Homo sapiens: one gene and its partners. The protein of the gene in region 3 purifies or fractionates together with the protein of the main gene of each other region. This does not show direct contact. Each region holds a gene or a part of one and is shown on either strand. Other genes may lie near its edges.

Region 1 (3,748 bases), on a different chromosome or scaffold from region 3:
AAATAACATGATGGGATTATAGGAGCAGAAACAAAGGTTCTCAATTGATTTTCAAGTTCTGTTTAACATCATGCATGCACACAACACCTCTCTCTTTTATAAGTTTATATAAATAACGTAACTTCTATCTTGGATCATGTGAAGAAAGGTTTCTGGTGCTAAAATACAATTTTCAAAACCGCTAGTTCAGTAGTTCTTACACTTGAGTGTGCATCAGAATCACTGGAGCGCTAATTAAACCACAGATTTCTAGGTCCCATCCCTGAGCTTCTGATTCAGGTTCCCCAGTAATGCTGCTGCTGCTGGTCCTGAAACCACTCTTTAAACCATAGTACTAGTCTTAGACAGTGAACACTTGAATGCCATCTTGGAAATGTCCAGCCTGTGACTTGTAGTTGATCTCAATACTGAGCTTGACCCAATCACTTAATATAATAGGTGTATGGTAACCTGTATTTCTGCAAAATAAGGTAAAAATACCTAATCCCTCGTTAACATCAGTGTTTTATAATCTGCATCGTAAACAGCATTTTCCCCAGAAAATAGAAATATATATTACTCATATACACAAAATATGAAGGCTTGCTCATTCATTCATCATATATTAATTGTGCCAGTGCTATACTAAGTGCTGAAGATGTACTAATAAGCAAAAAAGAAATGGCTCCTTGCCCTATAAAAGTAAATAGGCAATTACGACGCAAGTGCTTACCACTAGAGTGATAGAAGTACAAGGTATTCCGAAGTCACACAGCAAGGAATTCAATCGTCTAAGGAAATAAGGAATAACCTTCCCTGTCCTATCATTCTCCTTCATACTTAAAGCAACTGAAAAATGTGGGGATTTCCCTATAAATATGCAAGGGTATAGATATTGTTCTCTAGCTCAGGCAGAATAAGTTACTCCCTTTTCTGTGATTCCATAGACCTTACACTCACCTCTATTATCACCTTGTATAAGCTTAGCTTTATTACTTCATCTCTTGCTCACAGTGAGTCCCTTGAAGGTAGAGAATAACTGTTACACTTTTTGGCCCTAGTTCCTATCATCAAGGTGGATACGGAAGAGGAAGGGAAAGAGGAAAGAAAAAGTGATGAGAAGGAGGGAGGTCATTGTTCTTGAAGTAGAATGAATACTTTGTTTTTCCACTACTAGGTGTTAGTGTAAACCACATCCAACCACTTGGTCACTCATTATGACTAACAGCATGCATTAACAAGATGGGTAATGGATGCCATCTGCAACGGTAGAATAGGATAAAATTAATTAGCCCACGTGGGGATAAAACCTGTTACACTACCCTGATTAGTACTATGCTCTAATCAACCCAACTAACCAGTCTTGAAATCAAACGCCAATTTTTGACAACCCACAATGACTAATAATCAGCAAACCTACTCCAGAGAGCCTAAGTATAGTAAAATAGAGGAAATTACACCATTGTACTCATCCCTTAACTGTTTACTGTGGACAAGAAAGAGCCTATTTGCAATCTTTAGTGCATCATGATCATTCTAAGAAAGGATAGAACCTACTAATTGCATGAAGAGGATATCCCCCTTCTCTCTTTAATGTTAGATGGCATGTAAAAGGATTTGTTTTTTATTTAATTAACTGGTTACTGCATCAGTCTGATAGATCAGCCTTACAGGGTAACATAATCTAAAATTTTGATATATGGCCATGTTTACAAGTAATAAAAATAAAAGAAAAATCATAAGATACCTGGGCCCACAATGATTTATTCTGGGTTGATAGTGAACAAGGCTGATTTGATTCATTTTTCTGCCAGAAGGAAGGAATCGCCCATAAAAACACAAATGAGAGTAGGCTGGTAAGTGGTGGGTGTTTCTTTTGCAATACTATTAGCAAAGAGAAGCAGAGCCAACAAACAGAAGTAAAATGAAACCAGGTGATTCTTACTTGTAGAGGTCAGGTTGAGGCTGTTCACATTCAATTGCTGCTCGGAGGGTATCGATGGATTCTGCTGTACACAGTGCAATGGTATCACGTACTGCATAATGTGTCTAGTTGAAAGCAGAAGAAAAAGTGAAAACCAAAAAAACTTTCTTTTCATAATCATACACCCAACTGATTTCAGAAACAAATTTAGTTTATGTTTTAGTAAGAGGCTTTGGCAGAATAAACAAATATTAACATTTCCCACTAATAAGTTTTATGGTATTATTATGAAAATATATTACAAATAATTAGAAAGATAACCTGCCGCAAGGAGGGTTTCAAAGACAATTAAAAACCTAAAAGCTCTTCTTGACATGGACAGCTGAGAGAATTCTATTCACAACATGCATATAATTAACTAAAACCACGTGAAAAAGTTAATACATTTATTTTTTTTCCTATTTACAGAACTGAGACTTATTATTTTGCTCACTATAGTGTATGGCAATGGAGATATACACATATGAATTGAACATAACCTTTTTGGTCACAAAAATGCTAAAATTTTGCCAACAGCAAGAAAAAAATCATTAATAGTTCCATTACACAAATAGCTTAATTAATGATCTTGAAAATGTTCAATATGGATACATTTTGTACAAGGGGCAGGGAGATGACGTGTCTTGCATTAGTCAGATAATTAGAATATTCTACTAGTGTATATTATGCACTTGATTCATCCAGAACTCAAGGCAGGCGCCAATGAACCCACTTATAAATCATCAAACAAGGGTTAAAGCAGACTCAAAGAGCGCACCACTTAGGCAGAAGGGAAAGCTGTTGTCGTCATCTTGGGGGAAATATTACGGCAATGTCTGAACTATATTTAAAACTATCTCCTGATTTTGAAAACCTCTGTACTTTTAGCTGATTTGATCAGAACAACTTAACTGAAAAAAGAAACTATCTGAAAGTTTTCTTACTCCAAACAACTTTTTCACTATCAGGAAATCTTTATGTAGATTTCTTGATTTATATCTTGACATTCCCTAAATTATAACTTTGTTTTTGAAAAGGTTAAAAGCAGGTCATTACCATGCTTTTGAAATACAGAATTAGTCATCCAACAGGTAAAGGTTCTTTTTTACATACTGAGTCGTAGTCCTCAACTCCAGATGGAATAAACAAACAGAGGAGCCCTCCAAGGACATACCCAGAGGTGAGCCACATGAGTAACCCTCCTTAAAGGCAGCATAGAGAGGATACATCTTCATGCCCTGTGGAGCTCTGGACCATGGCCAAGAAAACCGACTGTGCCAGAAAGTGTATGAGGGAAATAAGTTACCCCCATTTGGCCAAATTTACTTTAAGTCACTTGCAATTATAAATGAGTTATAATTTGTTATATGTACATAAAATGTTGCTTTATAACTTACTTATAAAGCAAACATTTTCCAAACTACACCCTATCTTTTTTTTTTTTTTTTTTTTTTTTTTTTTTTGAGATGGAGACTCACCCTGTCACCTAGGCTGGAGTGCAGTGGCGTGATCTTGGCTCACTGCAACCTCCATCTCCCGGGCTCAAGCAATTCTATTGCCTCAGCCTCCCGAGTAGCTGGAATTACAGGCGCCCACCACTATGCCCGGCTAATTTTTTTGTATTTTTAGTAGAGACAGGGTTTCACCATGTTGGCCAGGCTGGTTTCGAACTGCTGAACTCAAATGATCCGTCTACCTCAGCCTCCCAAAGTGCTAGGATTACAGGCGTGAGCCACCGCACCCAGCCCTAAGTATTATTTTTAAATAGCAATCAAATTACTCCAGGTTGGGTTTCCTACATCCCAA
Region 2 (3,748 bases), on a different chromosome or scaffold from region 3:
CCGACTTAGTATTTACTGGCCACCCTCACAAGAATGTCAGCTTCCTGAGGGTGGGGGCTTGGGTTCTTCTGCTCACTGCCATATCCCCAACACTTCACAATACCTGGCACATAGTAGGCTTTCCATATTGGGCAAATGAATGAATGGGTGAATGCCCTAAGACTGGGGGATCCTGGCTAGATGTTTTATGTGGATTATAAGAATTCCCCCTCACAGGCCGGGCGCGGTGGCTCACGCCTGTAATCCCAGCAGTTTGGGAGGCTGAGGTGGGTGGATCACGAGGTCAGGAGTTCAAGACCAGCCTGGCCAACATGGTGAAACCCCATCTCTACTAAAAATACAAAAAAATACAAAAATTAGCTGGGTGTAGTGGCGGGCGCCCTGTAATCCTAGCTACTCGGGAGGCTGAGGCAGAGAACTGCTTGAACCCGGGAGGCGGAGGGTGCAGTGAGCTGAGCTGACATTGCACCACTGCATTCCAGCCTGGGCAACAGAGCGAGACTCCGTCTCAAAAAAAAAAAAAAAAAAGATTTCCCACTCACAGCCCTCTGATATAGGTGGTGTCTTCATTTTACAGATGTAGAAACTGTCATTCACAAAGATTATTTCATGCCTCCAATGGCTGGTTACATGGTAGAACTAGGACTCAGTTCCTATTTGACTATATTATTTACCACCTCCTGAAAAGACTTCAGGCCACCACCATCTGCCCACACAGCAACCAAGGGAGACTACAAGGGCAATGAGCCATACAGGCCACCAACAAGGGAGGGCCTAGCAGAGACTTGCTATCTTAGAGTCATCTCATGGTCTCCACGCCTGCTTTTGGGGCAAAGATCCTGGATGGGAAGGAAAACAGCATGCGGGTTATGAGCTCCAATTGGGAGGGAGGATTGGCAGACTCAGGCTGGAACCAAAGTGGTATCTATCAACTGTAGTGAAACATTGTATCTCGACAAACCTTACTTTCCTTGGCAGTGAAACCAAGATAATGACATCAGTGTAGCAAGTGCCTACAAAGCACTAAACAGGTGAGCATTTTCCAATTATCATTATTATGATCATCACAGCTAGAATTACAACTCTGCCACCCATTAGCTGTATGAGCTTGGACAAGTCACTTAACCTCCAGCCTCAGTCTTCTCATCTATAAACAAACAGGGACGATAATCCCCACCCACCATATTGGACTAAGTCAGATATCCAAAGTGCTTGGTACTCAGTAGGTACCTGGCCTCTGGTCCGTCGCTTCCTCCAATCAAGTTGGTGCCATTTCCGAGGCTGTCGCCATGCCCACTGAAGCGTTTACTACAGGCCTTCCCATGAGACGACCCACACCTCCCTACAGTTGGGACAAGGTCACTGAAGCTTCCCTTGGGGAATGGGCGTCAGTGTCATGGGGGGAGGGGGCCTGGCTGCCTCCCGATGACCGGGGGAGAGTGGGCTGGGGCGGGCGCACCTTGTCCTGCAGGAACAGCAGCACATTCCTGGGACCCAGCTCCAGGGCGGGATCTAAGTAGGTAGAGAGCTGCAAGTCGCTGGTGATGTGGCCTTCATGAGTGTCGGCCGCAGGAGCCCACAAGTCCCTGGCAGGGCACAGAAGAGGTGCTGTCAGACGGGGGCGCATGTGGACTGGAGCTCTGTCGCCGGCAGATTCGCTGCGAGCCCCCGAGCAAGGAACAGTCCACCTCCGGGCCTCACCACCCCTCGCCTAGGACAGCGCCGGAGTCGGGCGAGGGCGCCTCAGCCGCCACAGCGCATCCCACCCCGGCCCGCTCACCGGTCACTCGACCACAGCACCAGCGGGACCTGCTGCTCCGCCGCTGCCGCCGCCGCCGCCGCCGCCAACGACAAAAACACCGGCAGCCACGGCATGCGCCAGAGCGCCTGGGCGCACCGCGGCCCCATCCGCACTCGAGCCGTCGCCATGGCCGCCATCATAGCCTCAGCCTCCACTGCCTCAGCGGCCTCGACAGCCGCAGATCAGGTGACCGTTGCCCCCGCCCGAGCCCCGCCTCGCACCTCCATTGGCCCCAGCGCGGGCCGACCGGCAGGGCCGCAGGTAATTGGACCAAGTGCATGCCACTCGCGGCCACTCCTTCTCACTGGTTGGCTGTACGTGTCTCCAGGCGCTCACGCTCCGAGTGGGAAAGGGGATGGGGCCCAGCTAGACCGACTAGGACGAGACAAGAGGGACAGGGAGGCTTCGCGGAACCCTACGCCCACCCGACGCGTTCGCCCGTCCGTTTTTATTTTTATTTTTATTTTGGTTTTTTTGTTGTTGTTCTCTTCTTTTGTCTTTTTTTTTTCTTTAGAGACGGGGTCTAGCTATGTTGGCCAGGCTGGTCTCGAGTCCCCGGGCTCAAGCGATCCTCCCGCCTCAGCCTCCGGAAAAGTGGGACTACAGGCGCGCATCGCCGCACCCGGCCAATCCCTGTTTTAATCCTTTTCCTTAAAATTGCAAAAGTGGTGTCTTTTTCCTGCAGATGGACCCTCCCTGATACAGGTGAGAGGAGACTGTAATCCCTTAGAACGAGGAGTGAAGCGGGCTCAGGATAGCATCTAGGGGAACACCCAGCACTTACATTGGGCAGGAGGAGAAGGGTCCAGAAAAGAGATCGGACAAGGAGCAATCAAAGAGGAAGGAGAAAACCCAGAGCGAAGCGTGGCATCAAAGACACCCTAACGGGCCGGGCGCTGTGGCTCACGCCTGTAATCCCAGCACTTTGGGAGCCCGAGGCGGGCGAATCATGAGGTCAAGAGATCGAGACCATCCTGCACAACATGGTGAAACCCCATCTCTACTGAAAATACAAAAATTAGCTGGGCATGGTGGTGCACACCTGTAGTCCCAGTTACACGGGAGGCTGAGGCAGGAGAATCACTTGAACCCGCGAGGCGGAGGTTGCAGTGGGCCGAGATCGCGCCACTGCACTCCATCCTGGGCGACAGAGTGAGAGTCCATCTCAAAAAAAAAAAAAAAAAAAGATTGTAGTCATGATTGTCACATGTGATTCAGACTAGGACTAGGATAGTGGCAGTTGAGCTGGAGAGAGGAAGTGGGTCTGACAATACAGTCAAAGAAGATTGTAGCTTTTGGGTCTCTCTGAGTTGGGGACTGGGAGACGAGGTCACTTGGGGGCTCACTGAGTTTCGGGTGCTTAGGGAAACCCCCAAGTGGCCATTTCCAGGCCTTAACTAGCTGAGGAGAGAGGTTTTCACTGGAGCTTCACTGTATCCCAGGAGAATCCAGCAAACTTAAAAAGGAAAGCATGTCTATTATGTTTCTGTTACTTTTGTTACATAGTTTCAAGGCAAATACTTCCTCTGGAATGCGGAAGGCAATCTTGCCTCCGCCAGGACTCTGTTGCTGAGCTGCTTCCATGCTTAGGGAAGAAACCCACCTGTGGCTGCTTTTATTCTTCCCTGCATTGCTAGGGGTCCCTGGAGTGATGGCCCTGGAGGCTTCCTGAAGCACCTGCTATGGGCCAGGCACCTGGACTCTGCCCCGGAAGTTGACAGTTTGGTCTAGAGGACATGCAGGACAGCAGGTCATGATACAGGGTCATGAATATTCCAAAGGTTGAGACATGGGACTGGGAGGGATGTAAGGAGAGGGGCACCGATGAAGCTGCTCCCACCAGGAGGTGATATCTAAACTGAACCAATCACCAAATGTTGACAGCACCAATGAGCACCTTCTGTCTGGGGACTTCATCTTTAGGGTAAAAGCATTTTGTTCATTGAA
Region 3 (3,748 bases):
CTAAGAACCTGCTGATTTTCTCCTCCACTTTTCTGTCTCCACGTAGTATTCCCTTATCCACTCAACAAATAAATACCCATGTCTGGCATAGTATGCTGAATAGATAGTTCCTTCCCTAGAGGAAGTGACAAAAGTGATCTCTTTCAGATGGAAAAACTGAGGCCCAGAAGTTAAGTGGCCTGCAAGAGCCCTGAGATATTTGGACTTCCTTGCCACTAGCTAGAAGAGCTTCTCACTGAACTTTTGTTTAGTTATATCCCACCCTTACGGCTCACCTAAGATCCTGGGAGCCTTCCCCGGGAACTTCCCCGGGGTCTCACCTCAAGCGAGGGCCCAGGAAGGGTGAACCAAGTCGTCTGGATTTATGGATTCAACAGGTGTGGGGCGGAAGGCCTTTTCCTGCCGAGGGTGCGGCCCAGCGCCACCCCGCTCAGTCTCAGCGGGACACCTCCACAGCCAGTAGGAAGGGCAGTTCAAAATTCAGTGCTACCCCCGCGTCCCAGCTAAGAAAACAAGGGCCATCCAGGTGCCCTCCCAGCTGACGAGATGGAAAAATCAAAGTATAATAGATAAAGAGGGACCGTTTCAAAAGAAAAAGGGGACTTGAAAATATTGTAGACTAGGGGGAGGAAAGGAGGTGGAAAGAAACAATGCCCTACACACAGGAGGGGCTCCACAAACAATTTGTTGAAAAGAAATCGCTCTGCGGACGCTACAAAGATGCCCTGCAGGACAAGCCCACTTACACAGAAAAAAAGAAATCCTATCTAGGGAGTTGTTGGTCCCCAGAGTCCCCATCCCTCATTCCCCAACCCCGTGGCGTGCGCGCTTCCCGCTAGACTTCAGCCTGGGGCTCTTTCCTGGCCCCCAGATCCCCCGCCCCTCCGGTTGCGCTCCCCGCCTGGCCCCGAGGGTAAACCTGCCTCCGCGGAACACATCTCCGCGAGACTGGGCCAAAGCTTTGGGGCCTGCACTCCTCGCAAAGGAGAGCCTCCGAGACCGGAGGTTCATCTCAACCCCCGCGTTCGAGCCCGGGCCTGGAGAAAAGTGCCCTCCCCTCGGCCTCGGCCTCGTCACCGCGGGGGACTGGCGGGAGGAGTAGGGGAGGCCGGTGGGACACCTCGCACCAGGCCGCCCACCTACAGGGGCGTCCGGGCTAGGGGAGCAGACGGAGAGCGGGGGCGGCTCCTGACTCCTCCGCGCGCCGGGGCCGGGGCCGGGCCGGGGGCTCGGCCCGCTCAGCCAATGGGCGCCGCGCTCGGGCCCCCTCCCCCGCACCGGGAGGGGCCGAGGCTGGGCTGCTGCTGCCGAGGTCGTGTGCGACGTGCCGCTCCCGGGCCCTGTGTCCCCAGCCCCAGCAGGGCCGCGTGGACGGCGCGGCGCCCCCGGAAGGAGGCCATGTGCTCAGTGCCGGCGCCAACTACGCACGCGGCGCCCTCCGGCCCGCTAGATCCGAAGCCCATCCCCACTGCGGCCAGCGGCCCGGCGGGGCGCTGCGCTCGGGACCCGCACCGAGCCAGGCTCGGAGAGGCGCGCGGCCCGCCCCGGGCGCACAGCGCAGCGGGGCGGCGGGGGAGGCCCTGGCCGGCGTAAGGCGGGCAGGAGTCTGCGCCTTTGTTCCTGGCGGGAGGGCCCGCGGGCGCGCGACTCACCTTGCTGCTGGGCTCCATGGCAGCGCTGCGCTGGTGGCTCTGGCTGCGCCGGGTACGCGGGTGGCGACGGGCGTGCGAGCGGCGCTCTCCCGCTCAGGCTCGTGCTCCGGTCCGGGGACTCCCACTGCGACTCTGACTCCGACCCCCGTCGTTTGGTCTCCTGCTCCCTGGCGTGCTCACTCGGGGACCCGCGACTAGCGACCGGCACGCTCGCTGTTGCTACCTCTTGCCTCTTGCCAGAGAGCGCGCGGACCGTAGCGTTTATAGGACCCCGGCCATTGGCTGGCGACGCCGGTGTGTCAGGGGTGTGTGGGCAGGACCTCGGGGCGGGGCCTGGGGCCCAGCCTGTCCTGGGCGGCGCTCTGCGGGGAGGGGGTGAGGGGAGTGGCCGGGGCCGGGGCCCCCCCTAACCACTGCCTCGCTCAGGCTGCCGATCGGCTCGTTCTCTCTGCGTTGGGACCGCGGAGGGCATTCGCTGTGTGACTCAGGGCAAGTGTGCGCACCTCTCTGAGCCTCCGCGGCCTTCTCTAGCAAAATGGTGGAGCCGGTACCCGGCTGTAAGGCAAGCTGGGATGCGCGGAGTAGCGGGTGGAAAGCTGGACTGGAGTTCTCACTCGGCCGCTGGGTGACTTCGGTGCACTAGGGATAGTAACAGTACCACCTCGTAGGGTTGTAGAAAGACCAAGTGAGTTAATATTTGTAAAGTGTTTAGAACAGCGTCTACTGCATGGAAAGTAGTATTTATTTGTTAGAGAGACTCCAGGAGGTCTTGCCCAGGGATTGACTTCTCCCTTCCCTGTCTCCACCCCCCACATTCCCGTTTGTGAGCCAAGCCTTGCTTTTGCACCGGCCGGGCTCTCTTGCCTGGAAATGCATACCCATCTCAAACCTGGGCTTTAAAATCACCTCCTCTGGGACGCCTTCCTCTACTTCTCACAGTTCAGGTGAGTCTATGGTGACCTGTAAGTGTGGAAAATATGAAAGGCAGGCTAACTGACTGACATGATAGGACATTAAGGACATGATAGACCTCGGGTTTGAACCAGCTCAACTGTATACTGGCCCGGCCGCGATCCTGGGCGAGTTCCTGGCCAGTGAGGCTGTTTTCGTTTTTTTCTTTAATTTTTTTTTTTCTCAGACAGAGTCTCGCTCTGTCGCCCAGGCTGGAGTGCAGCGGCACGATCTCGGCTCACTGTAACCTCCGCCTCCCGGATTCAAGCAGTTCTCTGCCTCAGCCTCCCGAGTAGCTGGGATTACAGGCGCCCGCTATCACCCCTGGCTAATTATTTTTATTTTTAGTAGAGACGGGGTTTCACCATTTTGGCCAGGCTGGTCTTGAACTCTTGACCTCGTGATCCACCCACCTCGCCTCCCAAAGTACTGGGATTACAGGCGTGAGCCACTGAGCCCGGCCGAGGCTGTCTTCTTATGAGTAAATGGAATTCCCACACCAATCTCATTGCTATCAGGAGAGGTGCAATTTCCAGATAAGCTCATGAAGTGTTTAGCATGGAAGTTCTCATTTACTGGTTGGTGGTATTGTTGGTTTATTTATTTAGTCTGTTAGTAAATAAATAAATGCTGGTCTCAAACTCCTGGGCTCAAGTGATCCTCCCACCTTAGCCTCCGTAGTAGCTGGGAGTGCAGGCATGTGCCACTGCACTGGTAGTGGTATTGCTATCATCTGACTTCACCTTATTTCCTCTAGACCAGTGCCTTACTTGAGACACAGTGAAGGGAAGGACCCCCAGTCCAAAGGTCTGATCAAAGTCTTGAGGGTCCCTTTCCCGATGGAGGGAGTCATGGTGGGCTTACTGTCTGTCGGAAACCGGGAGGCTGAGCCGACCAGATGACCCCTGGAGTTCTCTGGCAATGTGTCCAGTTCTGGCTGAGGGGCACCTTGGTTGAGTATGGAGCCCTGAAACAGAAGGCAGGTGCATTCTGGGCACCCCCCTGCCCAAGGCTTCAATTCCTGTGGTCTCTCTATGCTCAGCCTGGAAAGCTTGGGCCACCTCTCTCCTCACCCCTGGACAGACCAAGTCCTGCTGACTCCGCTGTCTACACCACCTCATCCTCCTTCCCTCCCCTGCTGTCTG

What was found.
Region 1: the proteins of SLC2A1 (region 3) and ATP11C purify together in Homo sapiens (affinity purification with mass spectrometry; 2 studies listed by BioGRID and IntAct, with this or other methods). This does not show direct contact.
Region 2: the proteins of SLC2A1 (region 3) and ATP6AP1 purify together in Homo sapiens (affinity purification with mass spectrometry; 2 studies listed by BioGRID and IntAct, with this or other methods). This does not show direct contact.

What each region holds. Positions count from the first base shown.
Region 1 is NC_000023.11:139,800,312-139,804,059, forward strand, and holds part of ATP11C (phospholipid-transporting ATPase IG), read right to left. Parts: intron 2,029-3,748; coding exon 1,925-2,028; intron 1-1,924. UniProt on the Homo sapiens protein: Catalytic component of a P4-ATPase flippase complex which catalyzes the hydrolysis of ATP coupled to the transport of aminophospholipids, phosphatidylserines (PS) and phosphatidylethanolamines (PE), from the outer to the inner leaflet of the plasma membrane.
Region 2 is NC_000023.11:154,426,886-154,430,633, reverse strand, and holds the start of ATP6AP1 (V-type proton ATPase subunit S1 precursor), read right to left. Parts: upstream 1,958-3,748; 5' UTR 1,942-1,957; coding exon 1,781-1,941; intron 1,587-1,780; coding exon 1,460-1,586; intron 1-1,459. UniProt on the Homo sapiens protein: Accessory subunit of the proton-transporting vacuolar (V)-ATPase protein pump, which is required for luminal acidification of secretory vesicles.
Region 3 is NC_000001.11:42,956,982-42,960,729, forward strand, and holds the start of SLC2A1 (solute carrier family 2, facilitated glucose transporter member 1), read right to left. Parts: upstream 1,888-3,748; 5' UTR 1,671-1,887; coding exon 1,653-1,670; intron 1-1,652. UniProt on the Homo sapiens protein: Facilitative glucose transporter, which is responsible for constitutive or basal glucose uptake. Has a very broad substrate specificity; can transport a wide range of aldoses including both pentoses and hexoses.